Regions from separate parts of the Homo sapiens genome. Here region 1 is linked to region 2. Evidence: fine-mapped expression QTL. A gene starts in region 2. The other region holds a variant in brackets. All regions are shown on one strand. Distances are between the middles of the regions.

Region 1 (2,923 bases), 79 kb before region 2:
GACATCAAAAGAAAAAGCAGAAACAGACAAGAATGATCATTTTAATTATATCAGATTTTTACATTTCTGAATAAGAAAAGGTACTATGAACTATTTCAAAATAGCCAACAGCCTACGAAAAAGTATTTACAACCCAACAGCAAAGCATTAATATTCAGCATATAAACTAAACTCCTATAGATCAATAAGAAAATGACAACCCAATGGATCAATCGACAAAGAATGTAAACAGGCAAGTCACAAAAGAAGATATAATAAAGACCATTATGTCTATGAAATGATGTTCATCTCATTAATCAGGGAAAATGCAAATAACAAGAAAATCCAGCAACAACTGGGAAAAAACCAGTACTTCCACTAAAAACAACAACAACAACAACAACAACAACGACACGCAGCTATTTTGGGGGAATAATTAGGCAGTGTGTATTAAAAATAAAAACATACACTCTCTACTACCCAGCAATTATTCTTTTAAGAGAAATGCTTGCACAGAGTATGCAAAGAGGCTTGTACAAGAAACACTCTTTAGACTGGTGTTTATGATGGTGAAAAATTGAGACAACCTAAATATCCATTCATAGGGGAATGGCAAAATAAATGGGGGTATTTTGATATTATGTAACATGATGAAGCCATTAAAAGGAATGAGCCACAGGCTGGGTGCCGTGGCTCACGCCTGTAATCCCAGCACTTTGGGAGGCCGAGGCAGGTGGATCACGAGGTCAGGAGTTCGAGACCAGCCTGGCCAACATGGTGAAACCCTGTCTCTACTAATATACAAAAATTAGCTGGGCGTGGTGGTGGGTGCCTGTAATCCCAGCTACTCGGGAGGCTGAGGCAGGAGAATGGTGTGAACCCGGGAGGTGGAGGTTGCAGTGAGCCGAGATCGCACCATTGTACTCCGGCCTGGACAGGGCAAGACTCCATCTCGAAAAAAACAAAACAACAACAACAAAAAAGGAATGAGCCAGATCTATATGTATCAAAAATTCTAAGACAAATGCTTGAGTTGAAAAAACTAAGTTAGGCCGGGTGTGGTGGCTCACACCTGTAATCCCAGCACTTTGGGAGGCTGAGGCGGGTGGGTCACGAGGTCAGGAGATTGAGACCACCCTGGCTAACACAGTGAAACCCCGTCTCTACTAAAAATACAAAAAAAATTAGCTGGGCGTGGTGACGGGTGCCTGTAGTCCCAGCTACTTCGGAGGCTGAGGCAGAACCCAGGAGGTGGAGCTTGCAGTGAGCCAAGATCGCACCACTGCACTCCAGCCTGGGCAACAGAGTAAGACTCTGTCTCAAAAAAAAAAAAAAAAAAAAAAAAAGTTG[C/T]AGAACACATAGAGTGGTACCTTTTTTTAAACAATGAATTTAACTGTTACTCCCCGCTACCCCTCATACAATGGAGGCTACATCATGCTTGGAGCTTGTTGAAAAAAGACAGACGAGAGAAGATTACTTGTTCAAAACATTGAGCAGCCAAATACAGGAACTCCACCAAAGTAATGAATGAAAAAGAAAGCCTGGGCTGTGTTCTTTCCATTTCAGAATTGTATTTATTTCTCAATGGCAAGAGCTTTTGCTGTTATAAATTTATCGTGATTGGCTCTCACTAGCAATGACCAATAACTAAATAAAATAAATAATTGGCAAAAACGGAATTACAGCAGAAGATTTAGTTTTAAAGTTTTTTTTTTTTTTTTTTGAGACAGAGTCTTGCTCTGTTGCCTAGGCTGGAGTGCAGTCACGCCATCTCAGATCACTGCAACCTCCATCTCCCAAGTTCAAGCAATTCCACCGCCTGCCTCAGCCTCTGGAGTAGCTGGGGCTACAGGCATGAGCCACTACAGCCGGCTAATTTTCATATTTTTAGTAGAGACGGGGTTTGGCCATGTTGGCCAGGCTGGTCTTGAACTCCTGGCCTCAAGTGATTCACCCACCTCAGTCTCCCAAAGTGCTGGGATTACAGGCGTGAGCCGTGGAGCCGGGCCTCAAAGATCTTAACTGGCTTCATTTGCAATTCTAGAACTGGGCTTCATTCCAAAATGTTCTGGCCAGGCATGGTGGTGCACGCCTATAATCCCAGCACTTTGGGAGGCTGAGGCGGGAGGATCACTTGAATCCAGGAGTTCTAGACCAGTCTGGGCAACATAGGAAGACCCCTGTCTCTACCAAAAACAAAAAATGAGCTGGGTATGGTTGTGCATGCCTGTGGTGCAGGGTTTCTGTGGTCCCATCTACTCTGGAGGCTGAGGCAGTAGGCTGCAGTGGGCTGTGATCGTGTCACTGCACTCCAGTCTGAGTGACAGAGTGAGACTGTCTTAAAAAAAAAAAAAAAAGTTTTCCAACGAGCCCAGCAGAGGAGGTTGGTTTTGTAGACAGAGAAGGACTGAAAAAAGCAGAAGCAAAGAACAAAAAGCAGATTGGTTATTTCAAAGTTACTTTCCTTGAAAGATGAAAGATGAGAACAGGGAAACAGAACAACAGAGAAAAAACTGATTGCTTAACATCAGGTTACTTTAGGTTACTTTTTGTTGTCAGGATTAAAAGCAGAGGAAATTTCATTATTATGCTAAGTAAAACTAGCCTGTTTGGGAAATTTGGGTGTTATCTCTCTCCTGATTTCTCAGAAGGTCAGATAACAACTCGGTCTCAGTTTGGTAACTTGGAATTTAAGTATGAGGGACTCCATTTTGATATTTGGCCTGGTCTGTTGACCTAGTACAGGAGCTCAGTCAAAAACAAAATTATGAGTGCCTCAGAGTTATATGAGTGCCATCTCTACTAAAAATGGAAAAATTAGCCTGGCATGGTGGTGTCTGCCTGTAGTCCTAGCTACTCAGGAGGCTAGGTGAGAGGATCACCTGAGCCCAGGATGCGGAGGTTACAGTGCACTGACATCGCACCATACCACTGCACTGTAGCC
Region 2 (2,923 bases):
CACACACACACACACACACACACACATACACATACACAAACACTATTCCAAATGAGCTAAGACCTGGAGAACACACTATACACATATATACATTAGCTAACTCAGGAATCTAAATATAAATTTATTTTTGGAGAAACCCCCTGGGCTAAAATAATTCACCCACAAAGCCAGATGTAGCTTGAGGGGTAATAAACATGCTATGGCCTAGAGCAGGAAAAGGGAAAAAAGAATGAAGCAGTACATTTTCTTAATGAGGCTTTTTCAAACCACCATTTCATGTTGTAGCCAAAACAGATAAAATCACCAAAGGAACTTAGGATCTTGAAGAATATTCAGAGACTGTAGAAAGTGGTTTAAATAATAGATATTTAAGAAAAGATTCTAAAAAATATTTATTATGTTTATAAAATGGAAATTTCATGTTTATACTAAAAAAAGATTTACTATTACACATAAGTATTACACGAAGATGTATATAAACACATTGCATATGCAAAATGTATACACATAGACCACATGGCCAAATATGTGATATTATAAGGATAAGTTGATCTCACAGCAACATTTTGATGTGGAAAATTACCTCCACTCCAGAAATTATAAGTAAGGAAGATATACCCTGGCATTGCAAATAATAGCATAGGGATATGTCATTACACAACCTTGGATGAGATAACATATCAACCCGACATAAATACAGGCAACATCTATTCCTGAAAGGAATAAAAAAATGCTTACGAAGATACAGCAATGAGATACTGGGCTAATCGAATGACAAAAAAAATGTGATGTGTTCTTACATTGCTTACCCTAATTTTTAAAAAAGATTTGGAAAAAACAGAATAAAGATGACACTATCTGAAATAGTTGGTGTGCTTGAAATCCAGTTTTTAAAATTTGAAGGTAGGAATACTTCAACAAGATCATAAGCTTATACAACAGATCATAAGCTTATTTTTCTGTTTCAGATGCTTATCAAACTAGAAGTGAACATTTTGAACAGGTTTGTTTTCTAGGTGAAATCCTCTTTCCACATCCTACATAGCAAATACTCATGCACACCCACGCACATGAACACACACACACACACACACACACTTCTCTTTCTCTCCTTACAACTGTAAATCCATACCATGAGACTAAGGATGCTAACAACCAAAGAATGTGTTAAAGCAGCATTTTACCTCTTTGCTGATCAAACACAGAAGGGGTGCTGAAATCCATGGTAGCCTGTCTCATCATTTACCATCAGAATGGCAAAAAGCATCCAGGTCTCTAGAGAGGAGAAAACACCATCTCAAACCTTACTGTCAACATGACAGTCAGAGGCAGCATCGTTTGCCAAGACCTCTGTTTCAGGATTAAATGTGCATCAGAGCTGCAGGTTGTTGTCAAGGCAAGGTGATGAAAATAGGTAAATGCTATTCCTGTAAATACCTGCTAGGAAAAGAGTTACTCTATGGCCTCATTCATCAGCTGTACATGGGCATAATACACCCTCCACCCCCAAATCAATAAACACAATTACTCAAACTCCAAAAAGATAGTAAAATTGTATGGGCCACCTGCCTTGGATCTGGGCTGGAAAAACACAGCAGATCACGGAGCTTCAGCAGCTGGAATGTCGCTTTACACCAACAGAAATCTGAATGGGTGAGTGAGGATTCACAGGGCCAGACAGAGCATGTGCAAAGCTGCCAATGCAGTTCGCATTCGGCTGTGCTTTTGGCGGAGTGAGAACTGCATTTGGGTCATGTGAGCAGAGAGTGCCATCTCAATGGAATAGGATGTAAATATTGTAGCAGGAGGCTGCTGGCCATGTGCTGTGTGGAGTAATTATCCATGTTGGCAGTCTTCTTCACTCCCCTTTCAGCTCCGTTCTCCAATTGACAGGGAGGATGGGGAAAGGCGTCATTTGAAAGGTGACATTTCAAGGCTCGAGTGTCTGTGGTGATAAAATTAAAACAGTCTGCTGTCACAAGGGTGTTTATTGTAGCATTACATGTAGTAAAACCTGAAAAATCACCCGAATGTACCTCATTCAGGGAGCAGCTAAGTAAATGGTAGTAAATTCGTACTCTAGATTTAAAAATCTGACATAAATAAATCTGTGTATTTATCTGGTGACATGTCACTAATCTATTGTTAAATGAAATAAACAAGTTATATATTTCATTTGTTCGTGTTTTAATAAAACCGGAAACCACTCACTGTATACATTATTTTTATATATTCAGACGAACACTGAAAAAGATGTAGAAAGATACGTACTAAACTGCTAATATTGGTTCCCTCAGGCCACTGTGATTAGAGTAGGAGATTTCTAACTTGTTCTGTATCAATCTCTGTATTTTTGGCTTGTTAATAACCAGTATCTATTATCTTGTATTTGTAATAAAAATATGATATACTAAATTCAAACAAAGTTCTATATTCTAGGCACAACCAGATTTTTGGATAAGTCAAATAGCCATATAGTAGATGCTTGTTGAATCTAATAATAAACACCAGCTTCCTTTGCCCTTGGATAGGATGATTCTGAGGCATGGTGTTTTACTCCGTTTGCCATTTCCCTTTCAGGATTAAACTCCTTCAGGGTTAAACTCCACTGCCACCTGTGAGAATAGGTCTAATAACGTTCTTTTTATGGGCTGCTGTTCCCTCCCTGTATTACTTTCCCACGTTCCTACTGATATTTCCTGCACTTCTCAATAAGTTACTTGCATTGGAATCATTGTCTCAGGGTCTGCTTTTACGGAAACCCAAATTAAAATATTTCTCCACAAGAGGGTACATTTCATAAGGGCAGGGTCTTTGTCTACTCTTTCTTTGTCTGCTTTGTCCACTCCATGTCCTTACAGCCTAGCACAGAGAGGGGCACAAAGGAGGTGCTCAGTACATTTCAGTGCATGAGTGAAACTTC

The links. PIP is the estimated chance that this variant, and not a neighbour inherited with it, causes the effect.
Region 1: its variant is the best candidate, but not a certain one, in a credible set for the expression of ANKRD55 in whole blood (TOPMed, PIP 0.63).

Annotation. Positions count from the first base shown.
Region 1 is chr5:56,152,901-56,155,823 of GRCh38, forward strand. All of the region lies in intron 6 of ANKRD55 (ankyrin repeat domain 55), which reads right to left. Among named protein-coding and RNA genes, the nearest start is that of ANKRD55, 79 kb to the right of the region's middle. The variant C/T (reference allele first, on the strand shown) is at 1,330.
Region 2 is chr5:56,231,672-56,234,594 of GRCh38, forward strand. ANKRD55 (ankyrin repeat domain 55) reads right to left here and starts at 1,659. Exons shown (of 12, transcript NM_024669.3): 1 at 1,570-1,659; 2 at 1,185-1,275. The coding sequence starts at 1,242.